4 linked regions of the Homo sapiens genome follow. The protein of the gene in region 1 purifies or fractionates together with the protein of each later gene. This does not show direct contact. Each region holds a gene or a part of one and is shown in the gene's direction. Other genes may lie near its edges. The genes, in order: SOD2, FAHD2A, OAT and UBR2.

Region 1 (7,020 bases):
TGGGTATATACCCAGTAATGGGATGGCTGGGTCAAATGGTATTTCTAGTTCTAGATCCCTGAGGAATCGCCACACTGTCTTCCACAATGGTTGAACTAGTTTACAGTCCCACCACCAGTGTAAAAGTGTTCCTATTTCTCCACATCCTCTCCAGCACCTGTTGTTTCCTGACTTTTTAATGATTGACATTCTAACTGGTGTGAGATGGTATCTCATTGTGGTTTTGATTTGCATTTCTCTGATGGCCCATGATGATGAGCATTTTTTTCATGTGTCTGTTGGATGCATGGATGTCTTCTTTTGAGAAGTGTCTCTTCATATCCTTCACCTACTTTTTGATGGGGTTTGTTTTTTTCTTGTAAGTTTGTTTGAGTTCCTTGTAGATTCTGGATATTAGCCCTTTGTCAGATGAGTAGATTGCAAAAATTTTCTCCCATTTTGTAGGTTGCCTGTTCACTCTGATGGTAGTTTCTTTTGCTGTGCAGAAGCTCTTGAGTTTAATGAGATCCCATTTGTCAATTTTGGCTTCTGTTGCCATTGCTTTTGGTGTTTTAGACATGAAGTCCTTGCCCATGCCTGTGTCCTGAATGGTACTGCATAGGTTTTCTTCTAGGGTTTTTATGGTTTTAGGTCTAACATTTAAGTCTTTAATCCATCTTGAATTAATTTTTGTATAAGGTGTAAGGAAGGGATCCAGTTTCAGCTTTCTACATGTGGCTAGCCAGTTTTCCCAGCACCATTTATTAAATAGGGAATCCTTTCCCCATTTCTTGTTTTTGTCAGGTTTCTCAAAGATCAGATAGTTGTAGATGTGTGGTATTATTTCTGAGGGCTCTGTTCTGTTCCATTGGTCTATATCTCTGTTTTGGTACTAGTACCATGCTGTTTTGGTTACTGCAGCCTTGTAGTATAGTTTGAAATCAGGTAGCGTGATGCCTCCAGCTTTGTTCTTTTGGCTTAGGATCGTTTTGGCAGTGCAGGCTCTTTTTTGGTTCCACATGAACTTTAAAGTAGTTTTTTCCAATTCTATGAAGAAAGTCATGGGTAGCTTGATGGGGATGGCATTGAATCTATAAATTACCTTGGGCAGTATAGCCATTTTCACGATATTGATTCTTCCTATCCATGAGCATGGAATGTTCTTCCATTTGTTTGTGTCCTCTTTTATTTCCTTGAGCAGTGGTTTGTAGTTCTCCTTGAAGAGGTCCTTCACATCCCTTGTAAGTTGGATTCCTAGGTATTTTATTCTCTTTGAGGCAGTTGTGAATGGGAGTTCACTCATGATTTGGCTCTCTGTTTGTCTGTTGTTGGTGTATAAGAATGCTTGTGATTTTTGCACATTGATTTTGTATCCTGAGATTTTGCTGAAGTTGCTTATCAAATTAAGGAGATTTTGGGCTGAGATGATGGGGTTTTCTAAATATAAAATCATGTCATCTGCAAACAGGGACAATTTGACTTCCTCTTTTCCTTATTGAATACCCTTTATTTCTTTCTCCTGCCTGATGGCCCTGGCCAGAACTTCCAACACTATGTTGAATAGGAGTGGTGAGAGAGGGCATCCCTGTCTTGTGCCAGTTTTCAAAGGGAATGCTTCCAGTTTTTGCCCATTCAGTCTGATATTGGCTGTGGGTTTGTCATAGATAGCTCTTATTATTTTGAGATATGTCCCATCAATACCTAATTCATTGAGAGTTTTTAGCATGAAGGGCTGTTGAATTTTGTCCAAGGCCTTTTCTGCATCTGTTGAGATAATCATGTGGTTTTTGTCTTTGGTTCTGTTTATATGCTGGATTACTTTTATTGATTTGTGTATGTTGAACCAGCCTTGCATCCCAGGGATGAAGCCCACTTGATCATGGTGGATAAGCTTTTTGATATGCTGCTGGATTCAGTTTGCCAGTATTTTATTGAGGATTTTTGCATTGATTTTCATCAGGGATATTGGTCTAAAGTTCTCTTTTTTTGTTATGTCTCTGCCAGGCTTTGGTATCAGGATGATGCTGGCTTCATAAAATGAGTTAGGGAGGATTCCCTCTTTTTCTATTGATTGGAATAGTTTCAGAAGGAATGGTACCAGCTCTTCCTTGTACCTCTGGTAGAATTCGGCTGTGAATCCATCTTGTCCTGGACTTTTTTTGGTTGGTAGGCTATTAATTATTGCCTCAATTTCAGAGCCTGTTATTGGTCTATTCAGGGATTAAACTTCTTCCTGGTTTAGTTTTGAGAGGGTGTATGTGTCCAGGAATTTATCTATTTCTTCTAGATTTTCTAGTTTATTTGCATAGAGGTGTTTATAGTATTCTCTGTGTACTCTGTATTTCTGTGGGATTGGTGGTGATATCCACTTTATCATTTTTTATTGCATTTATTTGATTCTTCTCTCTTTTCTTGTTTATTAGTCTTGCTAGCGGTCTATCAATTGTGTTTATCTTTTCAAAAAACCAGCTCCTGGATTCATTCATTTTTTGAAGGTTTTTTTGTGTCTCTGTCTCCTTCAGTTCTGCTCTGATCTTAGTTATTTCTTGTCTTCTGCTAGCTGTTGAATGTGTTTGCTCTTGCTTCTCTAATATTTTTAATTGTGATGTTAGAGTGTCAATTTTAGATCTTTCCTGCTTTCTCTTGTGGGCACTTAGTGCTGTAAATTTCCCTCTACACACTGCTTTAAATGTGTCCCAGAGATTCTGGTATGTTGTGTCTTTGTTCTCGTTGGTTTCAAAGAACATCTTTATTTCTGCCTTCATTTTGTTATGTACCCAGTAGTCATTCAGGAGCAGGTTGTTCAGTTTCCATGTAGCTGAGTGGTTTTGAGTGAGTTTCTTAATCCTGAGTTCTAGTTTGATTGCACTGTGGTCTGAGACAGTATGTTATAATTTCTGTTCTTTTACATTTGCTGAGGAGTGCTTTACTTCCAACTATGTGGTCAATTTTGGAATAGGTGCGATGTGGTGCTGAGAAGAATGTATATTCTGTTGATTTGGGGTGGAGAGTTCTGTAGATGTCTATTAGGTCTGCTTGGTGCAGAGCTGAATTCAATTCCTGGATATCCTTGTTAACTTTCTGTCTCGTTGATCTGTCTAATATTGACAGTGGGGTGTTAGAGTCTCCCATTGTTATTGTGTGGGAGTCTAAATCTCTTTGTAGGTCTCTAAGGACTTGGTTTATGAATCTGGGTGCTCCTGTATTGGGTGCATATATATTTAAGATAGTTAGCTCTTCTTGTTGAATTGATCCCTTTACTATCATGTAATGGCCTTCTTTGTCTCTTTTGATCTTTGTTGGTTTAAAGTCTGTTTTATCAGAGACTAGGATTGCAACCCCGGCCTTTTTTTTTGTTTTCCGTTTGCTTGGTAGATCTTCCTCCATCCTTTTATTTTGAGCCTATGTGTGTGTGTCTCTGTACGTGAGATGGGTTTCCTGAATACAGCACCCTGATGGGTCTTGACTCTTTATCCAGTGTGCCAGTCTGTGTCTTTTAATTGGAGCATTTAGCCCATTTACATTTAAGGTTAATATTGTTATGTGTGAATTTGATCCTGTCACTAGGATGTTCACTGGTTATTTTGCTCGTTAGTTGATGCAGTTTCTTCCTAGCCTCAATGGTCTTTACAATTTGGCATGTTTTTGCAGTGGCTGATACTGGTTGTTCCATTCCATGTTTAGTGCTTCCTTCAGGAGCTCTTGTAAGGCAGGCCTGGTGGTGACAAAATCTCTCAGCATTTGCTTGTTTGTAAAGGATTTTATTTCTCCTTCACTTATGAAGCTTAGTTTGGCTGGATATGAAATTCTGGGTTGAAAATTCTTTTCTTCAAGAACGTTGAATATTGACCCCCACTCTCTTCTGGCTTGTAGAGTTTCTGCTGAGAGATCAGCTGTTAGTCTGATGGGCTTCCCTTTGTGGGTAACCCGACCTTTCTCTCTGGCTGCCCTTAACATTTTTTCCTTCATTTCAACTTTGGTGAATCTGACAATTATGTGTCTTGGAGTTGCTCTTCTCGAGGAGTATCTTTGTGGCGTTCTCTGTATTTCCTGAATTTGAATGTTGTCCTCCCTTGCTAGATTGGGGAAGTTCTCCTGGATAATATCCTGCAGAGTGTTTTCCAGCTTGGTTCCATTCTCCCCGTCACTTTCAGGTACACCAATCAGACGTAGATTTGGTCTTTTCACATAGTCCCATATTTCTTGGAAGCTTTGTTCGTTTCTTTTTACTCTTTTTTCTCTTAACTTCTCTTCTCACTTCATTTCATTCATCTGATCTTCAATCACTGATAACCTTTCTTCCAGTTGATCGAATTGGCTACTGAAGCTTGTGCATTCGTCACGTAGTTCTCATGCCATGGTTTTCAGCTCCATCAGGTCATTTAAGGACTTCTCTATGCTGGTTATTCTAGTTAGCCATTTGTCTAATCTTTTTTCAAGGTTTTTAGGTTCTTTGTGATGGGTTCGAACTTCCTCTTTTAGCTTGGAGAAGTTTGATCATCTGAAGCCTTCTTCTCTCAACTCGTCAAAGTCATTCTCCGTCCAGCTTTGTTCTGTTGCTGGCAAGGAGCTATGTTCCTTTGGAGGGGGAGAGGCGCTCTGATTTTTAGAATTTTCAGCTTTTCTGCTCTGTTTTTTCCCCATCTTTGTGGTTTTATCTACCTTTGGTCTTTGGTGATGGTGATGTGCAGATGGGGTTTTGGTGTGGATGTCCTTTCTGTTTGTTAGTTTTCCTTCTAACAGTCAGGACCGCCAGCTGCAGGTCTGTTGGAGTTTGCTGGACGTCCACGCCAGACCCTGTTTGCCTGGGTATCACAGTGGAGGCTGTAGAACAGCGAATATTGCTGAACAGCAAATGTTGCTGCCTGATCATTCCTCTGGAAGCTTCATCTCAGAGGGGTACCCGGCCATGTGGGGTGTCAGTCTGCCCCTACTTGGGGGTGCCTCCCAGTTAGGCTACTCGGGGGTCAGGGACTCACTTGAGGAGGCAGTCTCTCCGTTCTCAGATCTCAAACTCTGTGCTGGGAGAACCACTGGTCTCTTCAAAGCTGTCAGACAGGGACATTGAAGTCTGCAGAGATTTCTGCTGCCTTTTGTTCGGCTATGCCATGCCCCCAGAGGTGGAGTCTACAGAGGCAGGCAGGCAGGCCTCCTTGAGCTGCAGTGGGCTCCACCTAGTTCGAGCTTCCCGGCTGCTTTATTTACCTACTGAAGCCTCAGCAATGGTGGGCTCCCCTCCCCTAGCCTCACTGCCACCTTGCAGTTCGATCTCAGACTGCTGTGCTAGCAATGAGCAAGGCTCCATGGGCGTGGGACCCTCCGAGCTAGGCACAGGATATAATCTCCTGGTGTGCCGTTTGCTAAGACCATTGGAAAAACGCAGTATTAGGGTGGGAGTGACCCAATTTTCCAGGTGCCGTCTGTCACAGCTTCCCTTGGCTAGGAAAGGGAATTCCCTGACCCCTTGCCTTCCCGGGTGAGGCCATGCCTTGCCCTGCTTCAGCTCATGCTCAGTGGGCTGCACCCACCGTCCTACACCCACTGTCCAACAAGCCCCAGTGAGATGAACCTGGTACCTCAGTTGGAAGTGCAGAAATCACCTGTCTTCTGCGTCGCTCACGCTGGGAGCTGTAGACTGGAGCTGTTCCTATTCGGCCATCTTGGAACCCAACCCAAGTCTGGCATTTTTTGGTTTTCTCTGTGTATTGACTATGATTATAGAGGATAAATGGATATTGATATTATTAAATCGTCATTTACAGAAGGCACACAACTTATATCCTTTAAACAAAGTTCTCCAACCAGTAGGGTATACTTGCTGGTAGTGCTTACAGCTGCCACCATTCTTCACTGGGGCTCAGAGTGGATGCCTGGAGGAAAAAAACAAATGAATCTTTTAGCTCCTAGTTACTGTTAGCATTTTTACCAGAAAACAATTTAAAAAATGACACAAGTAAGTCTTCACCTATCAAGGCTGAGTGTGGTGGCCTATACTTGTAATCTCTGTGCTTTGGGAGGCCAACGCAGGAGGATCTCTTGAGTCCAGGAGTTTGAGACCAGCCTGGGCAACAAAGCAAGACCCCATCTCTACAGAAAGTTAAAATTTAGCTGGGCATGCTGGCACATCCCTATAGTCCCAGCTACTTGAGAGGCTGAGTTGGGAGGATCCCTTGAGGTCATGAGTTGGAGTCTACAGTGAGCTGTGATTACAGTGTGAGTCTACACTGCACTCCAGTCTGGGTGAAAGAGATCCTGTCTCTCAAAAAACAAGTGATTCTCCTGGGAAGAGATTTGTTTAAAAAGTCTGCACCTCTATTGATGATAACTTTGAATGTAAATGGATTAAATTCTCCCACTTAAAAGATATAGATTGACTGAATGGATTAAAAACCACCATCATGACTCGACTGTATGCTGCCTACAAGAAACCTCACCTGTAAAGACAGGCCAAAAGTGAAGGTATGGAGAAAGATATTGCATACAAATGGAAGCCAAAAAAGAGCAGAAATAACTATACTTACATGAGATAAAATAGACTTTAAGTCAAAAACTGTAAAAAGAAAAGTCATTATGTAATGAAACAAGGATCAATTCATGCAAGATATAATCATATTTTTTTATTAAGAAAATTTTTTTGTAGAGATGGGGTTATGCTATGTTGCCTGGCTAGTCTCAAACTCTGGGTCTCAAAGCAGTCCTCCTGCTTTGGCCTCCTAAGGTGCTGGGATTATAGGCATGAGCCACTGTGCCAGGCCTGAGGATATTATCATTATAAATATATATGTACCCCACACTGGATGACCCAGATATAAAGCAAATATTATTAGATTTAAAGGGAGAAATAGACTCTAATACAATAGTAGTTGAGGACTTCACTCTACTCTCAGCATTGGACAGATTTTCTAGACATAAAACCAATAAATATTGGATTTAAATTGCACTTTACACCAAATGGACCTGACATTTACAGAACATTCTAATAGGTGCAGAACACTCTAATAGCTGCAGAACACACGTTCTTTTCATCAGCACATGGAACAT
Region 2 (8,016 bases), on another chromosome or scaffold:
AAAGCTTTTATTTCCCCTTTGATTATTCAGCCACATTGTCAATGGAAAAAGTCACAAAATGTAGAAATTTAGCCAGGAGAGCTTTATCTCTTAGAAAGGGTTGCCACCTGCAGGATGGACATCCCACAGGTGGGGAAACGTGGCCTTTAGCAGAAACCAAAAGCAGGCACTTCAGAGGAAAAAGCGGAGAGGCTGAGGTGTATGCCCAAAGACAGGAACTATACATACATATTCAGTAAGTTATGAGACCCTTATGAATATTTATGAGGGGATCCTAACACATGCAACTGAATAATCCTGTGTGTTGCATACAACCCATGTTCACTTTGGGGTGGAAACATAACATTAAATGCCTAAAATTAGGCTCTATAGGTCAAAAGGTAGAAGAACATTAGCCAGGTGCAGTGGTGTGTGCCTGTGGTCCCAGCTACTTGGGAGGCCAAGGTGGGAGGATGGCTTGAGCCCAGGAGGCAGAGGTTGCAGTGAGTCAGCATCATGCCACTGTACTCCAGCCTGGGCAACAGAGCCAGGTCTGCCTTAAAAAAAAAAGAACACAAAGGTACTCAGTGCGCAGCCTCTATAAACTGGCCAGAACCAGCCCATGGTCAGTGGTGTCTTATCAGGAGAAAATTACTGAAGTCAGTCTCTTGTTCAATCAAACCTGTAGTTATGCTTTGTGGAATGGAGTCTGGAGTCTGGGGGCATCAGTTAGCATCTGACAATTGGTAAGTTAGAACATTTATTATTTTAGTGTAGGGGTATGTGACTTTTGCCTGGCATGGCCTTAGTCTTATTTATAATTTCATAATTTATAAGCCACAAAGACTCCATTCCATCAGTCTTATGATCTCTGTTTTACAACCCTGGATTTGTCCAGCTCTCCACCATCTCTTGTCCTAGGTACAAGCAGTTTCTCCAAGGAGGTGTCTACACCCAAACAACCACTGGCCTGTTTCCTGTCACTACACATTCATTTGCATTTCTAGTGTACTGTAGCCCCTTCTTTTTTTTTTTTTTTTTTTTGAGATGGAGTCTCGCTCTGTTGCCCAGGGTGGAGTGCAGTGGCGCAATCTCGGCTCACTGCAAGCTCCACCTCCTGGGTTCACGCCATTCTCCTGCCTCAGCCTCCCAAGTAGCGGGGACCACAGGTGCCCGCCACCACGCTTGGCTAACTTTTTGTATATTTAGTAGAGACAGGGTTTCACCGTGTTAGCCAGGATGGTCTCGATCTCTTGACCTCGTGATCCACCCGCCTTGGCCTCCCAAAGTGCTGGGAATTCAGGTGTGAGCCACCACGCCTGGCCTGTAGTCCCTTCTTATCCATGGTTTTGCTTTCTGAAATTTCAGTTACTCAAGGTCATCCATGGCCCAAAAATATTAACTGGAAAATTGCAGCAATAAGCAATTCATAAGTTTTAAATTGTGTGCTGCTCTGTGTACTGTGATGAAATCCTGCACTGTCCTGCTCCATCCTACCTGGGACAAGAATCATTCCTCTGTTCAGCTTTTCCATGACGTCTGCCCTCCTTGCCCCTTAGTCACCAATGAGCTGGCTCCGTGATTAGATCCACTGTCGTGGTACCGCAGTGCTTCTGTGCAAGGCACCATCATCTGACTTCATAATGGCCCCAGAGCAAAAGGGGAGTGGTGTCGGCATTTCCGATATGCCAAAGAGAAGCCTTCCTTTATGGGAACGCTCCTGACTTAAGGAAATAAAACAAAAATCACATAATGAGGTTGCTAAGAGCTACAGAAAGAACGAATCTTCTATCCATGAAATTGTGAAGAAGGAAAAAGAAATTTGTGCCAGTTTTGCTGTCGCACCTCAAACTGCAAAAGTTATGGCTACAGTGTGTGAGAAGCACTTAGTTAGGATGGAAAAGGCATTAGATTTGTGGGTGGAAGACGTGAACAGAAACATATTCTGATTGAACAGCAACCGTGTAGCACCAGGTTAACTTCATCTGGATTAAATTTGATCACTGGCATGTATATATAGGAAAAGACGTAGCAGATGTAGGGTTTGGTACTATCTGCAGTTTCAGGCGTCCTCTAGGGGTCTTGGAAAGTACCCCCCAAGGATACTCTATACAAATGAAATAATTCCATATGTACTCATTTTTAATCTCTTTTTCACTCTGAATAATTATCTTGATATATATCCATGTTGCATCAACAATTTGTCCCTTTTCATTGCTGGGTAGTATTCCCTAGTGTGGCTATAACAGAGTGTTTACACATTCACCTGTTAATGAAAAATTGAGTTGTTTCCAGTTTGGGGATTTTGTAAAAAGGCTGCTGTGAACATTTCTGTATAAGCCATTGCATAAGCATTTTTTTTAAATTTCTCAGGTAATTACTATAAAACAAAAAAACAAATCTGGATTATATAAGGAGCGAATTTATTCCAAAGGATTGTTGTGGGGGTGACCATTGCAATAGGGAAACGTTGCAGTGCGGCCACTCGCAGGCTTCCCATATGATCTGCAAGTGTCTCAGAGGTTAGGCAAAGGGCTGATCTTGTATAGGGAGGCGTAAACGTGGCTAGAAAGAACTGTTATGGGAAAGTGGGCTGAGCAAGAGTGTCACGATCGAGGAGGTCTTACCCTGCGGACAGCCTGTTCTCAGGAGGGAACCTCAGGAGGGCTGCGGGTTGGCACAAGCTGTGGGTGGGCCAAAGCTCAAGGGCTTGGAAAAGGAGAGAATCTGAACCAAGGTTTGGTTACAGGCTTTTGTTCTTATTGATCTGTGGGACAAGCAGCCCAGCTAATCATTTATGAGGCCAAGAATGGGAATTTAGAGGGTCTGTGTCTGGCCTGGTCACAGATAAACAAGGGAGCATCTGGGAGTCTTATCCAGGTTATATAGAAAGTCACTGGTTCTTTCCAGTAGGGGGTTTTCTGGAACAAAAGAGTGGTGGGATTCCTTAACCTTCACTATTTCTAGAAGCAAAGGGCTAAGGTAAAATTCAATACTGTCAATAGTCAGGATTGAAATGGCTACATCATATGGTAGGTGTATGTTTAATTCTCTTCATACACTGACAAATGGTTTTCGATCGTGGTGGTACTATTTTATAATCCCATCAGCAGTGTACAAGAATCCCAGGTCCTCCACATTCTTGCCAGTACTTGGTATAATCAGTCTTCTTTGTCCATTCTAGTAGGTGTGAGATGGTGTCACATTGCGCTTGCAATTTGCATATCCTTAATGATTAATGATGTTGAGCATCTTTTCATGTCCTAATTTTTTCTTTCTTTTTTTTTTTGAGACAGAGTCTTGCTTTGTCGCCCAGGCTGGAGTGCAGTGGCACGATCTCGGCTCACTGCAAGCTCCACCTCCCGGGTTCCCGCCACTCTTCTGCCTCAGCCTCCCCAGTAGCTAGGACTACAGGCGCCCACCACCACGCTCGGCTAATTTTTTGTATTTTTAGTAGAGATGGGGTTTAACTGTGTTAGCCAGGATGGTCTCGATCTCCTGACCTTGTGATCCGCCTGCCTCGGCCTCCCAAAATGCTGGGATTGCAGGCGTGAGCCACTGCGCCCAGCCTTCATGTCCCAATTTTCTGTCTGTATATCTTATTTGATGAAATGTCAGTTCAAATATTTTGTCCATCTAAAAAATTGAATTGTTTGATTTTATCTACTGACTTTTAAGCATTCTTTCTATATTCTGGATACAAGTCTTTTTATCAAATATAGCCTTTACAGATATTTTCTTCCAGGCTGTAACTTAGCTTTTCAGAAAGTCTTTGGGAGCTATGGCTTAGTGAAACCCTTGTGCCAGGTTCTCCTCAGCGAATCCCCCTGATCACAGCCACCCCCATAGGTTCCATTTCAATATCTGTGGTGACCTTCTGCAAGCTAGGCTGAAGTCCCAAGCTCCAGACCCATGTCTCCAACTGCCCACCGTTCAATGCCCTTTGGATGTCCCATGCAAATCGGAGCTCACCATCCTCTCCCCAGACCCGCTGCTCCTCCAGGAGCCCTGTCTCCATGAACGGCCCTGCACCTACCGAGCTAGAGACCCAGGAGTTGGCCTTGTACCTCCTTCCTTCTCACTTCCACCTCCTGTCATTCAGAGCTGTCAGTTCTTCCTCCTGAACATCTCTGGACACTCACCTTCTCCACCACGCACCGCACCACCATTGTTCTCAACCGCACCACCCACCCAGACACCTTTCCTCAGACGGGTGGCCAGAGAAAAACTTCTCAAATAGAAGTCGGGACATGGCACGCCACTGAGAACCTTCCAGCGGTCTCCTGTGCACGTAAACAAGGTCCAGACTCCTTCGTGGGACAAGTAAAGCTCTTGATGATCTGGTCCTTGAGTAATGTGGGGGCCACTTGTACAGAGCCCCTCACACTGTTCAAAGTCGGCAGCTGAAGAGCTGAGCAGTAGCTGTCTGTGGAGTTCAGCTGCCACTCCCTACACGCCTGCCCTCTGCAGGGGATGGAGTCCCGTTTCCCCACTTCCCCACCTGCGCCCAGCAGTGCAGGTGAAGGCCTGGCTGCGGAGAGTGGCTGGGAAACGCTGCGCTTTGGGGTCAGGAATGCCAGCTCCACTACTCACCGCCTGTGTCACCCTGGGAAAACAGCTCTGGCCCCAGGTTCTCCATAAGTAAAACGGGGGCAGTCATCCCTCCCCTCCTCAACGACATATGTCAGAATCAGAAGCCACAAATCATTCTCTGCCACCCAGCACGCTGCCTTGGTCTCCTAGACCACTTTCCCCAACAATGGGAAAGGCGCCAGGCCCAGAACAAGGCCGAGACCGGATGAGGCCAGCGAAGCGCCCAGGGACAAACCTTCGGGCAGCGCCCACTCTCGAGTTCAGGCAAGTGCAGGGTCCCTCCGAGAGAGAGCGTCTCCAGAGAACGCGGCTGGCGCCTGGCTGAACCCGTAGCCTGAAGACCCGCCGGAGCCGCCCGCCCCACGATGGGCCCGCCCCTCCGGGATTGGCGCCCTGCTAGTGGCCATTGCCTGTGACGTCACAGGATCGCGCCCGCTTTTCTCTCGGGTGATCCGGCCGAGTGGCCCTGGGTTAGCAGCTGCTGCATTTCCCCGGCTGGCTGCGGTCACTGGTGGCAGTGCTCAGGCGCCCGCCGCCCTTGACCTTCGGCCCCGCGAGCTCTAACCCTACAGCGCAGGAAGATCGGCCGCCGCGGCCAGGTAGGACGAGCCTGGCTGGGTCTAGGCCAGAAGGGTGTCCGTGGCGCCGGTCTCCCGCGGAGCGCAGAACTAGTACCGGATCCCCAGCCGCTTCTGACCACACAGACGGGGCGGACCTGTGTGAGCACTCACTAACTGTCGGGGCTGGAGCTGGGCATATGGGGAAACTGGGGGACCGGCACGGGTTCCAGGCGAGTGGACGGTGGGATGGAATCCGACGTGCACACCCATGTCTCAGGCTTTGTTTGATGGAGGCTACTGTTTCCACCTCATGTCGCCGCCCCTTTGCTTATGGACTCTTGCAGAGTTGGATTGAGCTCGGGCTGTGTGATATAGTGGTTGTTGCAGAAGCCCCAGGGCCACTTTCTGACTAGTACCTTGGGCACCTGACATCATCCCTTTGAGTCTCAGTGTCCTCTTCTTTAAAGTGAGGGCGCTCTACCTGAGGAGATTGCTGTAAGGTTGGAATGAACCTGCATGTGTGTGTCATGTGGGAAGGGAACAGTCAGTGGGGCCTGGGGTTCTCTTGGAGAGCTGGTAACCAGCCTCGTCCCTGAGGCAACAGCCAGAGGGCGCCTGTAGTTTCCCCACGCATGTCTGTTAGCAGTTACGGCCTCTGGAGGATCTCCTGTGGGAGGTCCCTACTTCTCACTACAATCTTTAGAGACTTTGGAGGATTTCCTATGGAAGGTCCCCACTTCTCACCACAACATTCTGGGTTAAAATGGCCTTGGTAGGGGGATGGGGGCTGAAGCTGGATTTTTTTGCTTGCATTACAAGCTTCTGAACCAAGGACTTCATGTCACCTGGACTTGGATTCACATCCCAGCTCCTTCCTCTCCTAGCTCTAGGACTGTGTAACCTTGGGCAAATCTCTTAACCTCTTTAAGCCTTAATTGTTTCATCTGTAAAATGAGGCTAACAGTACCTACCTTCCACAATTGTCGAGAATTAAATCAGACATTGTAGGTAGAGCACTTAATAGTTGGCATTCAGCGGCAGCAGTTACTGTTATGTTAGCATGTGGAGTGTCTGAGTGTGTGCACATTGGCTCGAACAGCCTTTTGACAGTGGCACAGTTGGTGCTTGTGTAAGACAGCAGGGCAGAGAAGTCAAAGCCCTCGGTTTTCTAGTCAAACTGGTGGGCCACAACAGTGGTGACCTAAGTCTAATGAATCTTCAACTGAACAAGGCAGATTGAATCTCCAGGTGAGGACCAAGAGTCTGGGGATCAGCTGCCTCCACATTTTTGGGCATAGAAGGCTGTACAATACCGCCTTTGTTGTAAGAGCAAGGAACCATTCAGGGAAGGCACCATGTGGTAAGGAATAGAGGCCAGACGTGGATTAAGAACAAAACAAGAGAATAGTGTTTGTCTTTAAGTGGAGCCTTGGACTCAAAACAGGATCTGAGCCCTGAGGATTTTTTTTTTTTTAATTGAGATGGAGTCTTCGTCTGTCACCCAGGCTGGAGTGCAGTGGCGCGATCTCAGCTCACTGCAACCTCCTTCCCCTGGGTTCAAGCGATTCTCGTGTCTCAGCCTCCCTAGTAGCTGGGATTACAGGTGGCTGCCACCACACTCGGCGAGTTTTTTGTATTTTTAGTGGAAACGGGGTTTCACCACGTTGGCCAGGCTGGTCTTGAACTCCTGACCTCAAGTGATCCACCCACCTCGGCCTCCCAAATTGTTAGGGATATCACGCATGAGCCACTACAACTGGCCCTTGTGGGAAGGCACAGCCATGTCTCCTGAAGTTAACAAGCACTAAGCTTTCCCAAGTAGTGAAATGTCAAGCCCCTGCTTCTGTCACTTATTTGTTCATTCAGCAGAAAGTCACTGAGAGCCTTCTGTGCACCAGGCACAGTGCTGGGCAGTGAAAGAGACAGACATGTGCCCTGGACCCAGGGAGATGACAAGTGATGGCTGTCAGGCCCAGACCCTGTTGTTTGTCTGCAGCCTCTTCCCTCAGGCAACTTGTTCTCTATCAGGAGAAACGAAATAATTATTATCTGGAGAGGCAGGTGGGGGCGCTGCTCCTAGAAGACTGGGACAGCCTGGTAGAGGTTCTAGCTTGATCATGTGAGCAGTGGAAACCATTTTAAGTAGGAGGTTAACAGGACCAAAATAGCATTTAAAAAATTGTTTATGGCCACTGTGAAGCCAGTTTCACCAGCGTCACTTGCCCATGCTGGGCTGCCACCCAGCTAATTCCTGGTCCTGCTCATTTAGCCCAGCTCAGCTCACATCACTTCCTCCAGAAACTAGAGAAGGGTAGAGCCCCTGACCATCTTCACAGCATTAGTCCTGATAGCTGAATCTTACGTCAGTTGTTAACATCTGTGACCTGTGCAGGGAGAATGGCAGGGCTGAGTTTCACCTACATTGTTTCCCCAATACCTACAGCAGAGCCAAGCACAGTGGGAACTTTCAGAAAGCACTGGTTGAAGGAACGCTGGAATCCCTGGGACTTACTGCGTAGCATGTAGTAGTTGCTCCTCTAGAAAAGTTTCACCTTATGAAGTATAGCAGGTAAAATACAAGCCTGGACCACTTCCCGTGTGGTATGCAGGGAACGGTTGATGGGGCAAAGGGCCTCGGGCTATAGCCCTAGGAATTTCAGGGAACCTGATGATGGCTCTGGGATCCTCTGTCTCCTGGATCCTGCATTTTTCTCTGCAGGCTCTGATGCTGGTGTCTGGTAGAAGAAGGTTACTCACAGTTCTGCTGCAGGCTCAGAAGTGGCCCTTTCAACCCTCCAGAGACATGAGACTAGTGCAGTTCCGGGCACCCCACCTGGTGGGGCCTCACTTGGGCCTGGAGACAGGGAATGGTGGAGGGGTTATC
Region 3 (7,214 bases), on another chromosome or scaffold:
TTAGTAGAAACGGGGTTTCCCCATGTTGGTCAGTCTGGTCTCAAACTCCCGACCTCAGGTAATCCTCCCACCTCGGCCTCCCAAAGTATTGGGATTATAGGTGTGAGCCACTGCGCCCAGATGAGTGAGTTTTCTTTTCTCAAATTGATAGAGCTAGAGAGCCAGAGAGATATTGTAGGTTAAAAAACGACCGCAGGCCAGGCATGGTGGCTCACACCTGTAATTCTAGCACTTTGGGGGGCCGAGGCCGGAGGATTGCTTGAGCCCAGGAGTTTGAGACCAGCCTGAGCGAGATGTCGAGACCCTGTCTCTATGTGTATTTTTAAATTAAAAAAAGAAAAAAGACTGCAGGCCAGCCTGACGTGGACAGGAAGTGCTCAGGAAGAGGACGAGGCCCCTTCAGTCTCAGTCGTCAGGGAGGGTCTCACCTGGGGGACGGGAAGGGGTTGCAGCCTGAGTTCGTAGGTGGAGCTTGGCTCCGGGAGAGAAAAATTAATACTCCCGTCAGGCACAGCCTCATATGAGGACCCATAGACGAACGGCAACATTTCTGAGTCTCTGTCTATCATTCCCAGTTCAGAACGTTTACCATCGATCACTCTCCCACTGTCCTCGATGCCTTGCTTAACTTGCTCCTTCCAGATCCCTGCCTTTCTGGACTTAAAGGAGGTTTGCTCTCCACCAGACCTAAATACCTGTCCTGACTTGGTGCACTGGGAGCAGGAAGGATGCGTTACACATGTTGCCCAGACTTCTGCTGCGAAGACATCTTTTTAGGGTGAATGTAATCTGGGAAACAAAATTTCTCCTGCAGGTTAAAAATCACCAAACACTTATTTTCTCTGTGTCGTTATCAGTTTTCCTCCTTGGCTGTCAGCTTGGATTTTCCTTTTTAATCATTTGAAGCCCAGGTATATGCAGACTATACTAATAAGAAGTCAGGACGAGTGGGACAATAAAGGAAGCAACGCAAAGCAAGAGATCTGCATAGCCCACCCGTTGTTTTTCTGGCCACTAAATACTAGAGAGTTGTCTGTATAAGAAAATCAATGATTCTTTCCTTTTTTAAAATACAGTTGCAGCTTTTTTAGATGACCAATGTCGCAAGATTTTTGTTCACATCTGTTAAAGGAGCATTTCTGGAACTTCTCCCTCCTTACTGAAGAGACTCATATGGGTCGGGCATGGTGGCTCATGCCTGTAATCCCAGCACTTTGAGAGGCAGAGGTGGGCAGATTGCTTGAGTCCAGGAGTTCAAGACCAGCCTGGACAACATGGTGAAACTCCATCTTTACCAAAAAGATATAAAAATTAGCTGGGCGTAGTGGCATGCGCTTGAAGTCCCAGTTACTCAGGAGGCTGAGATGGGTGGATCCAGGAGGTAGAGGTTGCAGTGAGCCATGACCATGCCACTGCACTCCAGCCTTGGCGCCAGAGCGAGACTCTGTCTCAAAAAACAAACAAACAAACAAACAAACAAACAAAAAGGACTCACATGGTGTTGCCTGATGATGTGAAACCCCTCGCAAGGTCAGGCACCTGAGGCACTCAAAGGACATTTGTCGAATGAACTGATGAAATGAATTTAGGTCTTGGATGTCTGTTATGAGGGCCATGGAGTTTTGCTCTTGTTGCCCAGGCTGGAGTGCAATGGCACAATCTTGGCTCACCACAACCTCCTCCTCCCGGGTTCAGGCGATTATCCTGCCTCAGCCTCCGAAGTAGCTGGGATTACAGGCATGCGCCACTGTGCCTGGCCTGAGGGCCACTCTTTATATCCTCAGGTTTTATGGTCCCCATATAGTTAATTACTTGAATTATTAATAGTTTTTAGAGACTCAAAAATCTTTGTAATGTGCACTTTACCTTTATGTTTCTAGATTGAACAAATAAAATACATACAAATAAAGCAGCTCTGTTTCTTGGTTGAAAAGAAGCAGCTTTCAAGTTCAGGTCTCTCTGTCAAGGCCACATTATGCTGAAAAACAACTCTAGTACAGAGACCATAAAATGTTATCATGCTTTCTGGACCTATTGCATTTTTCTGATAAGAGGAAAGAGATAAAACCCAGACATTTCCAGCAACTTCTTGCATATGAAACTCCTTAAAGAGCACCTTATCTGTGAGCCCAAAGACATTGTAACATACTTTATGTTACCCCTGGATCCTGGGTGTCATGTGCCTCTCCTGAACTCACCTGCTCCTCCTTGACAAGGCATAACTCGGGAGTCTTGGGCTCTATAAGAGTTCCAAGAGCTGGGCATGGCCCCACATACCTGCCCAGGTTTATAGAGCAGGACCATGGAGAAACCATTCCTTTCTGACCCCTTGGGCAGAATAACCTAACTTCCAGGAAGTTAATCACATTGTATTGGGTGCTGTGGAGGAACATGAAAGAAATAAAAGGCAATGTTCTGCTCTCAGTGAGTTCTGGAGAGCCCATGGCCACAACAGTCTGAGAGAGTGACCTTGGTATAGGGCAGATGGAGCCCAGGGGGACTGAATCCCTTTTGGTGTCTTGCTCTGCACATCTGCAGATACTGGCTCTGCTGTTCACAGCTCTGCACCCATATCACTTTCTTATCCCTACCATTTAGCATGGACTTTACTTTCTGCTTAGCTAAGACTTATCTTAGCCAGTTATGTATGTTGGATGTCTTCCAATTGCTCCCCTACCCCGTCTCCACCCTTTTCCACCCTGCTGTTTGTCCCAGGAGGCTGAGCTGTCTTAAAGGGCTCCCCTGGCCTCTGGCCTCCTAATGGCTTCAGCCCATGTGGAAGCCTGACAGGAGATGCTCATTGTCCAGCTCCTTCCCATGCAGTTGCTGATGACTTTGGTGACCAGATAGCCTTTCCCACACTCCTCTCTTTGGGTTCTGGAATTCTGGAAACCCCACTTGGAGGCCGTTGGGCCTAGGATGGATAATGGCCCTCGCTGGTGCATGAGACCCAGGTTATTTCTCCATCCCTTGTGGTTTACTTGCCTACATTGATTGATTGATTGGTTGATTAAGATAGATGGTCTTGCTTTGTTGCCCAGGCTGGAGTGCAGTGGTGCAGTCATAGGTCACTGCAGCCTCAACCTCCTGGGCTCAAGTGATCCTCCCACCTCAGCCTTTGGAGTAGCTGGGAACATAGGTGTGCCACCACACCAGATTAATTTTTATTTTTTTTTGTGGAGACGGGGTCTCACTGTGTCGCCCAGGCTGGTCTGGAACTCCTGGGATCAAGCAATCCTCCTGCCTCGGTCTGCCAAAGTGCTGGGATTACAGGCATGAACCACGGGCCCCCACCACCACGTTTTAGGAAATGTTCACATTGGAGTGTGCCCTCTGTTTCCAGCTGGGCCCCCGACTGGTCATTGTGGTCTAATGGAGTGTGGTGCCGGCAGCTGCCAGCGCCTGCCCTCTGAGAGGGGTGGCGAGGGGCACACAGGACCAGACTGCCCCTACTGTTGGATGACTGGGTAAGTCGCTTTCCTTCTCTGGGTCTCTGTTTTCCAATATTTAACATCTTGTTGTGGGCTAAGTGAAGTCCAAGTCCCTTCCGATTCTAACATGAGGTTGTCCCGGAATATCTATTTTGTGTTCTGAATTTAATAACCGGCTGTGGAGGGCACCACAGGCAAATCTGTACTGTGAGTGGGTTGCTGCCACTCAATTATCTGACAGCAGCTGCGAACAGGTGGGCAGTGTGTTTTCCATAGGCAGCGACGACTTTTGGAGGTGGATTCAGAGGCACAACTAAGCCGCGCGGCGCATCAGGGTTCAAGGGCATGGGGCTCCCGCAGCTGTGGCTGGGGCAGAGCTGGGGCTGGTCCCTCCCTCCAGGAGCACAGGGCGGGCGGTCCAGCCTCACGTCTCTCGGCCTCCAGCCACACCCGGCCCGCGCAGTGGGGGGCCCAACAGACTTTTCCTTTTCGGGCCTCAGTCTTCTCGTCAGCAAGGGCGGACAAGGACTCTTCTCGTCCCGCCAGAGGAGGCGACCGAGGGGCCTGAGCTCAGGTACAGGCCGGCGGGCTCAGGAGGCGCGAGCGCGGATCGAATCCGCGGGAGGAGCAAAGATCCTTGATGCGCGGCCGGAGGGCGGGGCGGAGGACGGGACCCACGCGATTGGTATCCTGCCCTCCGCCCCAGCCAATGAGCGGCGAGGGTGTCTTGGGGGCGGGGCAGAATCAGCCTTTAAGTTGCAGTGACTCTCCGGCGTCACTGTTGCGCTTCATAGACGCCGCGTGTACCCGGTTGTCCTCAGGCGCTGTCAGGTACCGTCTGGGCGCCGCTGTCCTGGGGCTCTGGTTCGGGCCCTGGCCGGGGTTCCCTGACAGCGGCGGGGGAGGCGGGCGGGCGCGGGGTGGCCGCGGCCCGGGTTCGGGGGATGCTGGCTGAGGGGGCGCGCTGGGCCTCGGCCGGGGAACGAGCCCCGCTTCAGCGGCCCGTTTACTCTGCGGGCGGCTCGGACCCGGGCGCCCTGGAGTCTCCGGCCGGCGCGCAGCTTCAGGGGGCAGGGGCGTGGCGACCCACGGCTTGCAGGCCGGAGTCCTGGTTCCAGCCCAGAGCGGCCGACGGGCGGGCGGCAGGGAGAGGCTGAGGATGTGGCAGCCCCGCCTGCCAGACCGGGCGGAGCCGCCGCCCCCTGCGCTCGCGGCCTGTGGAGGCCAGGACTCGGCCCACCCGGCCCAGAGACCCCGAGGCGCCCCGGGGTTCCGGGTAGGAGGCCTTTGGGCACCCTTGGTTCCTGGGGTTGGCGGGGAGGCTGCGTTCTGGGGACGGGGGAGCTGTGCAGTAAACCGGTGGCCCTGGTCACGCGGCGGGGGCGCTGATGCAGCCTTGGAGGGCTGGGTCCTCCCGGCCTGCTCCTGCGCCCTGCAGATCGGCCTGCCCATCGCTCCCCTCTTCCAGCCTATGATTTTTTTTCTCCAGCCTCTGTCGAAATAAAGAAAATTACGGAAGCAGAACCTTCCTTACAGTAACGTGCAGGTTAATTAGATGGTGGGGGATGGGGGGGCAACAGGACTTTCAGCATGAAAACCTCCCGTTGGGGGCTTTTTGCAAACCCTGCTGAGCATCAGTAAATGGGCCTGGCCAGTGCGTTTCCTCGATCGCCTTCCCGGGCGGGACGGGAGGGGTCATTGTCCGCCCTTTGCTGGCGAGAGGACTGAGGCCCGAAGTCACCTGGGCACTCGCCCTGTGACCCACCGTCTCCTTTTGTCACTCTACATCTTACCTTTTCGGTGTTCAGTTTTACCTCTTAGATAAATTACGGTGATAAATTAAGGGCGAACAGACAGTGACTTTGGAATGAAGTGGCTTTACCTTAAGAAATGACTAATGTTCAGTTTCCAAATTCTAAATTTCTCCTTCTGGGATTGAAAGGGTTTCTGTGGATAAGCTAGTTCTTTCAGTTAACCCCGGAACTGTTCTTTAGATTGTAATCAATCGCTCTTAGCCATGTGAAATAACAATAGACTCCTTTCATTAGAATATCCTGGTTCTGTCTTTAGATGAATCTTTTCATAAAAACGAGCGTTAAATTAAAAAGCTTATTTTTAGCCCGGCACGGTGGCTCACACCTGTGTAATCCCAGTATTATGGGAGGCCCAGGCAGGCGGATCACCTGAGGCCAGGAGTTTGAGACTAGCCTGGCCAACATGGTGAAACCCTTTCTCTACTAAAAATACAAAAATTAGCCAGACATCGTGGTGCGCGCCTGTAATCCCAGCTACTCGGGAGGCTGAGGCAGGAGAATTGCTTGAACCCGGGAGGCAGAGCTTGCAGTGAGTTGAGATCGTGCCACTGCACTCCAGCCTGGGCGACAGACTCCGTCTCGAAAAAAAAAAAAAAAAAAAAAAAAGCTTATAGTTTTGGGTTTACAGTTTTTCATGGTGTTTAAGATTAGTTTTGCATCCCCCCCCCAAAGAAAAATCCAGTATAACTTTAAATAGTAAACATTTTTAAAAGACATTTTTCCCTCAAAGCAGCTGTCTTAATATGTATTATCCCCATAGCGTGCCTTTATTACAGTTATTTGTGTGCATATTTTATGCCCTTTAGTGAGTTCTTGAGGACCTTTCAAATCTCAAACATTTACAAATAGTGATGAATGCACGAATTTGGATGTGTGTGGAGGATGTGCTGTAGTTGACCCCGGTCCTTTCTCAGTAGTAAAACTAGTTGTTTGCCAATGATGCACTTGGCTTGAATTTTAGCCAGAATACTGATTACGTCAAAGAGACTTCTGTTGGTAGAACTTTTTTTTTTTTTTTTTTTTAAAGGCCTGTATTTGTGAATGGTTACCTCAGGAAAAGTAAATATTTGTCAAAATAGCAAGAACAAATTTACTCCTCAAGTTGAATATTTTAAGTGGCTTTTGGACAACTTTACGCCGACTATTCTTTTAGAGTAAGAAAATAGTTTTTAAGAGTATAGGCTAAATTAACTTCAAAATGCAGCCTTTTGTGGAAATTCTACTGTAGGTATGTTCTAATGTAGATGGATGGGCTAGATGGAGGGAGTAATGGTAGCCTGAAGGACCCTGTTAATTACGTGGATAAAACCTTCAGTGTTAGAATTCTAGCTTGCCAAGAGCAATTTGTTCTCATTTCCAGGACCTGAGTATGGGCGTCAGGTAGATGCATGATAGCTGCCTGGAACACATTATTTTGACCTTTGAAGGCCATTAGATCTAATGAAGTAAACTCTTGATGAAGAGATGAGTTATTCTAGATGAGGTCAGAGAGTGAACACCCCCTCTTAGAGTTAGACTCAACCTGGTCAGGGATAGGTGATCCCATGGTCTTGATCACTTGCTACCTTGACTCCCTCAGGAGTCCTAAGTAAGACTGACCTCTTTATCTGATAAAGGCCCACAGGATGCCCAACCTGGGCTAGGTTCTAGGAATGCAAAGTGAATTTTACTGTTTTTTAAAGGAGCTTAGAGTATAGACTTATAGGCATAAAAACAAGTGGCCTGCAGTGTTAGGACCCGTTACAAGTCTGCACAGTCCCTGGGAGTCTCTAGGAGGGACTTAAATAGTAAATTCTATAGGGGAGGGTGAAAAAAAGCTAATATGGATGCTAATTATGCATAGAAAAAATAACCAAATGTTAATGGTTATCATGCAAGTGTAAAATTGCTGGTAATTTTCTTGTCTGTGTTTTCTAATTTTTTATCAACTGAAAAATGGTGTGTGTGTGTCTTTTTAAACAGTTTTAAA
Region 4 (7,461 bases), about 120 Mb from region 1:
TGGCCAAGAGCCGTGGCTCACACCTGTGATCCCAGCACTTTGGGAGGCCAATGAGGGCGGATGACTTGAGGTCAGGAGTTCCAGACCAGCTTGGCCAACATGGTGAAGCCCTGTCTCTACTGAAAAAAAAAAAACAAAAATTAGTTAATTAGTTGGGTGTGGTGGCAGGTGGCTGTAATCCCAGCTACTCAGGAGGCTGAGACAGAAGAATCACTTGAACCTGGGAAGTGGAGGTTGGAGTGAGCTGAGATCATGCCACCCCACTCCAGCCTGTATGACAGAATGAGACTCTCTATTTAAAAAAAAAAAAAAAAAAAGAAAGAAAAAAAATTGAGTGAAATTCCTTGGTGACAGAGTGAAACTTTGTCTCAAAAACAAACAAATAAACAAACAAAAACTCCTTTTCCCTAGCCTCCTGTACTTCTTTCTTGGATATAAAATCTTTGCTTATCTCCTCCAGTGTTTTTAATAACATTTGTAAAAGTTCTTTCCAACTTTCTGACTTGTGTCTGTTTCTTCCTTCGTCATTTTTGTTTTAGTCTCTCTTCCATAGGCTTTGCTCAAGTATCTGTACACAACCGCCTGTCTTCATATTTAAGAATGACTTACTAAAAATATGATTAGAAGTTTTATGCATGGGTGGGGTGAACTGACTATACCATTTTGTTGGGGTCTTATCCTCTACAGAATTTTTTTTTTTTTTTTGAGATGGAGTTTCACTCTTGTTACCCAGGCTGGAGTGTAGTGGCACAATCTCGGCTCACTGCAACCTCCACCTCCTGGATTCAAGCGACTCTCATGCTTCAATCTCCCGAGTAGCTGGGATTACAGGTGCCCACCACCATGCCCAGCTTTTTTTGTATTTTTAGTAGAGACAGGGTTTCATCATGTTGGCCAGGCTGGTCTTGAACTCTTGACCTCAGGTGATCCACCCGCCTCGGCCTCCCAAAGTGCTGGGATTACAGGCATGACCTCTACAGATTTTTTTGGTGGTGAGATAATCTACCCCTCTGGAGAAGACCCTCCCAAACTCTTGCCTGGGAGGTATAAGCCTGGCCACTAAGGTTCTCAGAGCCAAATGGGGAAATAAGCTAGGTTATCCCTGTTCACTATGTAGACTTTGATTCATCTCTCTTGAATGCAGTGCGGTATCCCTGTCCTCAGCTGTGTCTGGTGTCTCCCAGTCAAAAGGCCCTCAAGTGTAGTCACTCTAGAGGATAAAGCTCTAGTCTTCTTCCAGAGTAGGAAGTGAGATCTAACTTCTTGCTATACAGACTTTCAAACAATAAGCTTGCTTTTAGCATTGTCTTCACCCACTTTCAGAGTTACATGGTGCCTCAAATTTTTAAGTCTTTCAGGGTACTGCATATTAATTAGCTTGACTCAGTGTCTCTACTGCTAGCGGAGGTTTCAGCATTCTCTTAGTTACTTCTCAACCACTTGCTTTCCACCAAATTTTGGTGCTGTCATCCTCTCTTCTTTTCTTTTTTTCTCCCTTTACTGTCATGAGGTATTCAATCTGCCACATTTAACTGGAAGTTGGGGCTTAGCTCTTAATGCCCCCATGGGAACAGAAAACAAGACCCTGGGTCAAAGAAACATTGGAATTGCAACTGAGATCCTCTACATAAAGCCAGGGCTTTCAAAGGAATGTCGTATCAGTGAAAGGGTAGACTAGACAAAAAACCCACCAACTGGCATACAAAAATGACAAAGAAGCTCTTTACCTTGACTCTGAGTAGGAAAAAGAACTCTCCTTAAAAATTCATAGACAGGCCGGGCACTGTGGTTCACACCTGTAATCCCAGCACTTTGGGAGGCTGAGGTGGGTGGAACACCTGAGGTCAGGAGTTTGAGACCAGCCTGACCAACATGGTGAAACCCTGTCTCTACTAAAAATACAAAAATTAGTCAGGCATGATGGTACGTGCCTATAATCCCAGCTACTTAGAAGGTAACTATGCTCACCACTATACCACCAACGCATCTAATCCCAGCTACCTAGGAGGCTGAGGTAGGAGAATCGCTTGAATCCGGGAGGCAGAGGTTGCAGTGAGTCAAGATTGCACCATTGCACTCCAGCCTGGACAACAAAGTGAGACTCTGTCTCAAAAAAACAAAAATTATAGACAGAGAAATGGCACACAACTGAATTAATACTATTAGGGAATCTTCAAGCCTAGAAACTGACGTACAATTGGTCCTAGATACAGGATACTCCTAGAGTGCCTGGTCCTGAGTATACGATGTTTTCTAGGTTGTCTGGCCTTGCAGAAGCAAATGAAAAAGTATTTTGAAAGTATTAATACATGGAGAGTCCCACTGCTAATGCTACTAATGCTAAGTGAAGATGATCTCCAAATTCATAATTATGACACACAAGGGAAACAATTTTTTTTTGAGTCAGGCTCTCATTCTTTCACCCAGGTTAGAGTTCAGTGATACAGTCATAGCTCACTACAGGCTTGAACTCCTAGGCTCAAGTGATCTTTCCTGTCTCAGCCTCCCAAAGTAGCTAGGACTACAGACATGGGCCACCATGTTCGGCTAATTTTTAAATTTTTTTGTAGAGATGGGGTCTTGCTATGTTGCCCAGGCTGGTCTCAAACTCCTGGCCTCAAGTTATCCTCCAATCTTGGCCTCCCAAAGTTTTGGTATTACAGGTGTGAGCCACAATGCTCGGCCTGAAACAAATAATGTTAGGAAGCAAATAATGTTAAGAACAGAAATTGCCTTTACAGTCTATTAACGACTTAAATTCTATGTTAGGACAGCTCAAGAGATGTTGTTTTTGCTTCTAGGCTGGGACAATCCCAGTTTTCTTCCAAGTTGACTCTGTCCTGAGTGGATCAGTGTAAGGAAGTTGGGCAAAAAAAGAAAAATACATAGAAGAATATTTCAAGATATCTCATTATAAATATCTGTACAGATATGTGCATACTTTTTTCTGGACAGACTCATAAGACAGTGTCAAAAATGATTTTCTTTGGGGAGAGGGACTTGGGGTAAGAGGAATAGGAAGTTTTCAATTTTCCTTTTTTAAAACATTCCTTTCGAGTTTGAATTTCTGATGTTTTATATGTATATATATATATAACTTTTAAAAAGTGATAAGAAGGCTTACTTGTATTGTGAGGTTACAGGGATACAGGCAGTTTCTTATTTCCTTTTTTAAAAAACTGGTTAATATCATAGTATTGGTTTAAAAAAAATCCCAAAACAACATAAACATAAACATGTCCTAAACCTGGTCTGGCTCAGAACTTTTCCCCCCTATATGTAATTTACAACCTACTTCTGGGAATAAATTAACACACTTGACAAAAGGTATAAACAATTTTCTGACAAACTCTAGAGACTGAAGACTTCTAAGAAGCCCAGTCACCCAGCTGTCAGTCAAGAGTCTAATTACCTTTAACTAAACATAGTTTTCTTTGATAGCTAGTCTAACAATGTTTACCTATTTCTTTTTTTTTTTTTTCCTTCTTTTTTGATACAGGGTCTCAGCTGTGTCACGCAGGCTGGAGTGCAGTGGGCTGATCACAGCTCACGATGGCCTCAACTGCCTGGGCTCAAGCAATCCTCCTGCCTCAGCTTCCCGAGTAGCTGGGACTACAGGCGTGCCACCACACCTGGCTAATTTTTTGATTTTTATCAAGAGGGTCTCGCTATGTTGTCCAAACTGGTCTCAAACTCCTGGGCTCAAGTAGTCTGCCCCCCTCGGCCTCCCAAAGTGCTGGAATTACAGGCATGAGCCACCAAGCTTGGTCTGATTATCTGTAGAAATTAAATGTCTCTATCAAGAGGAAATCTTTTAATTGGCCTAATAGACTCTTTTTCCTTTGCAGCAAGATTTGTGATAAAGTTTATAAGTGGTCATCACTAAAGTTTTTGAAAAATTTTTTAAAACATGTTTTAAACCTTCAAAAAAGTGGGTAATGTTCACCTCCATTACTCGTATAAAAGATATGGGTTCGATGGATGACAGGACATAGAACCACAGGAATAGAATGTAATTCATTCATTCCTTTGACAAGTATTTGAGTGCCTACCCTATGCCAGACTGGCAAGTCCTTGAGGGTCTACCATGTGCCAGGCAGTGTTCTTGAAGCTGGGGATACAAAAATGAACAAACGAGATTCGGAGAATAAAACTACAGTTCCCACAGTATCTTTCTCTTTGGCTTTTTTCCAGGGGGCGCTGCTTTCCGCGACTGTCTTCCCATGATTCTCGTTGGGCAGAAAAGCCCCGCCCGCTTATCTGCCATTTAAGCCAGCGCCCCTTGAGAATGGACTACAACTCCCACAATGCATTCGAGGGGCACCGTGTTAGGGCGCCACCTTTTTCCCGGCTGTGCTGTACCTACAGCACCCAGAACTACAGTACCCAGAAAGCTCCGCTTCCCCTCCTGGGTGTTATTGCCCCTTTCCTGGTGCAGGACGCGGTAGTGGCCAGCGAGAGTGTCAGGCCTGGGGTTTTCTGTGTCCTTCCCTGGGTCAGGGACGAGCCAGTGACTTGACTCTTGGGCGCTAAGCTTGGGAGGGAGCGCAGGAGGCCGCTGTCCTTCCTTTCCGGTTCACGTCACCCTTCTCTCCCTCTGTTGCTCCACCTGCAGCCACTTGGACGGCTCCGGGACTGATTGCCTGGGGCAGGGGTGGCAGTCGAGGCCGCCGGGGCCGAGGTGAGGCTGCAGCTCTCCGGGCGGCGGTAGCGCTGGGGAGGAGGAGGAGAGAAGATGGCGTCGGAGCTAGAGCCAGAGGTGCAGGCCATCGACCGGAGCTTGCTGGAATGTTCGGCCGAGGAGATTGCGGGGGTGAGTGCCGGAACCCGGGCGGGTGCGTCTGCCCCTCGCAGGCCGCGCCTGTGGGGAGGAACCGACTCCTGGACGTCCTGGAGCAGCCCGACCCAGACTTGGGGAAACAGCTGTGCCGGCCCTCGCCTTGTGGGGTAATAGCCCGGGGAGGCCACCGATCCTGCCCCTCTCTTTCCATTTTCAACAGCTGCCAGAGCTGCGCTGTGCACTAACTACGTTTACTTTCCCTTTCTGCCCAGGAGAACCCACGGCTCTTCCATCATACCTCCTTTCCCCCAGCCTCCCATTAAGTCTCCCAACACATGGGCCTTTGCCCTTTATATCAGCTCTTGGAAGAGGAGAAGAGACGCTTCTTGTGTTTTTGGTATAATCGCCCTAGTTTATCTAGTTAATTGCTTTTCCTGAGACAAGCGAAGCCGTGTGCTCCTCCGACTAAACATGCCACCCTAACCGAGCCCCTCTTTTGTTTTTGGGACTGCCCCAGGCACCAAGAAGGCAAACGACACTACCCTTCGTTATCCGTTTCAGTGCTATCTTTTTTTTTTGCACCGGTTTGATTAGTTGACAACGTTGATGCATGTGTGGAAAGTTTACTGAGTATGAGAAAGTAGTCGTGGAGTCTGGGAAATTTTAAAAATATTTTTTCTAGGAGTTAGGGGTAATTGGATGGAGAACAAATGTTATATAACGTTGATAGAGCAGCTTTCAACAAATACTGTATAAGCTAAACGTGAGAACTGGTCACAGTGTAGTAGGAGCAGTTATATTCCAAACGTAAAACCGTTCAAACGCACTATTGCATTAAAACTGTAATATGAATATGCTAGTGTAAATAGCAGAGTTGTAGGAACACCCATTAGAAGAGATTGCCGAGAATGATTATGAATGGACCAAGACAGCTTGGGCCCCACCTCTAAGACCTCCAATTAAAAAGGCTGCTAGGAAGGGAGTGACCCGTGAATAAAAGTCAGCAATCTGAATGCTACGAACAAAATTTGGGATTGGGGGCACTGTGGAGCTGTTGGTCAGTGAGTAGTTATTTTGCGTGAATTGGTGAGGACATTAAGTCCGGGTAGAAAGAAATGTCAGGAGTAGAGGTGAAGACTTTAAAGAAATACGTTGTTAAATGCTGAATCTTTGCTTGTTTGGGTGTGTTTTGTTGTTGTTTGTTTTTGTTTTTGAGACGGAGTTTCGCTTTCGATGCCCAGGCTGGAGTGCAGTGGCGCGATCTCAGCTCACCGCAACCTCAGTCTCCCGGGTTCAAGCGATTCTGCTGCCTCAGCCCCTCGAGTAGCTGGGATTACAGGCATGCACCACCACGCCCGGCTAATTTTGTATTTTTAGTAGAGTTGGGGTTTCTCCATGTTGGTCAGGGTGGTCTCAAACTCCCGACCTCAGGTGATCCACCTGTTTGGGCCTCCCAAAGTGCTGGGATTACAGGCGTGAGCCACTGCGCCCTGCCTTGGTGTGTTTTTTTAAACCTACTTACTTGTTTAGCCTAGGTCTGTTTTCATTTACTTTCTACTTAATGTTGTACAACTCAAGGAATTTCTGCCTTTCGTTTATCGGAGATTTGAAAAAAGAAAATGAAAGTAGTGTTACAAGTAAACTGTTAAATAATAATGACAGCTGTTTGCTCTCCATGCCTCTTCTAATTGATATCTGTTGCTTACCTCAAAGTACTGTTTTGATTTTTTTTCTCTCACTGAATTTTGTGTCTTGGTCCAGTGATACAGGGTACAAATTCCGTTATCCCATTCTAAAAGTGCAAACTATCAAGTGATTAGAGGTTCTCCAATTTGTAGAGGCTCCTGAGGAAACTGGTTATAAAAGTAGTGCGGGAGGCCAGTGCTCCTAGTTCTTGTTCAGTGAAATTCTCAAGCAGATGCAGTAAGGAAAAATCAAGGAAAATGCAACAAAAAATTATTAATTTGGACTTCATTTGAGTTTGTGAAGATCATAATCTGAGCTACATTTTACCCTGTTTACTTTTTTTGTTTGTTTTTTTGAGACAGTCTTGCTCTGTCGCCAGGCTGGAGTGCAATGGCGCAATCTTGGCTTACTGCAACCTCCGCCTCCGGGGTTCAAGTGATTCTCCTGCCTCAGCCTCCCGAATTACAGCTGGGATTACAGGCGTACGCCACCACGCCTGACTAATTTTTGTATTTTTAGTAGACACAGGGTTTCACCACATTGGCCAGGATGGTCTCGAACTCCTGACCTCAGGTTATCCGTCCGCCTTGGCCTCCCAAAGTCCTGGGATTACAGGCGTGAGCCACCGCACACAGCCTACCCTGTTTACTTTTAAATGCCTTTCTGAACAATAAGTTTTTTTTTTTCTTTTTTTGGTAAGAGATGGGGTCTTGCACTGTTGCCCAGACTAGAGTATAGTGACATTATCATAGCTCACTGCAGCCTTGACCTCCTAGGCTCAAGAGATCCTCCTACCTCAAAAACCAATATTAAAATATAAAATTCCTTCAACTATATAACCTTAATCTTGCCTTACTTTGTGAGGACTTTACTGTCTGTATTAAGTTAAAACACCTAACATTTAAAACTGTTTTTTTCAGCTTAGGCTTCAGCTTTTTTATCACACATTTAAATTAATAAAGTTTTTTCTTAGGTTGAAAGCACATTTTAGGGAA

Evidence for each region.
Region 2: the proteins of SOD2 (region 1) and FAHD2A fractionate together in Homo sapiens (co-fractionation; 2 studies listed by BioGRID). This does not show direct contact.
Region 3: the proteins of SOD2 (region 1) and OAT fractionate together in Homo sapiens (co-fractionation; 2 studies listed by BioGRID). This does not show direct contact.
Region 4: the proteins of SOD2 (region 1) and UBR2 purify together in Homo sapiens (affinity purification with mass spectrometry; 3 studies listed by BioGRID and IntAct, with this or other methods). This does not show direct contact.

Annotation. Positions count from the first base shown.
Region 1 is NC_000006.12:159,669,238-159,676,257, reverse strand, and holds part of SOD2 (superoxide dismutase [Mn], mitochondrial isoform A precursor), read left to right. Parts: 3' UTR 1-7,020. UniProt on the Homo sapiens protein: Destroys superoxide anion radicals which are normally produced within the cells and which are toxic to biological systems.
Region 2 is NC_000002.12:95,397,702-95,405,717, forward strand, and holds the start of FAHD2A (oxaloacetate tautomerase FAHD2A, mitochondrial), read left to right. Parts: upstream 1-5,006; 5' UTR 5,007-5,171; exon of another isoform or gene 5,172-5,291; intron 5,292-5,298; exon of another isoform or gene 5,299-7,701; intron 7,702-7,851; 5' UTR 7,852-7,857; coding exon 7,858-8,016. UniProt on the Homo sapiens protein: Tautomerase that converts enol-oxaloacetate, a strong inhibitor of succinate dehydrogenase, to the physiological keto form of oxaloacetate. It is thereby required to maximize aerobic respiration efficiency by preventing succinate dehydrogenase inhibition.
Region 3 is NC_000010.11:124,415,921-124,423,134, reverse strand, and holds the start of OAT (ornithine aminotransferase, mitochondrial isoform 1 precursor), read left to right. Parts: upstream 1-4,211; 5' UTR 4,212-4,262; intron 4,263-7,214. UniProt on the Homo sapiens protein: Catalyzes the reversible interconversion of L-ornithine and 2-oxoglutarate to L-glutamate semialdehyde and L-glutamate.
Region 4 is NC_000006.12:42,559,585-42,567,045, forward strand, and holds the start of UBR2 (E3 ubiquitin-protein ligase UBR2), read left to right. Parts: upstream 1-4,444; 5' UTR 4,445-4,735; coding exon 4,736-4,813; coding exon of another isoform or gene 4,814-4,947; intron 4,948-7,461. UniProt on the Homo sapiens protein: E3 ubiquitin-protein ligase which is a component of the N-end rule pathway.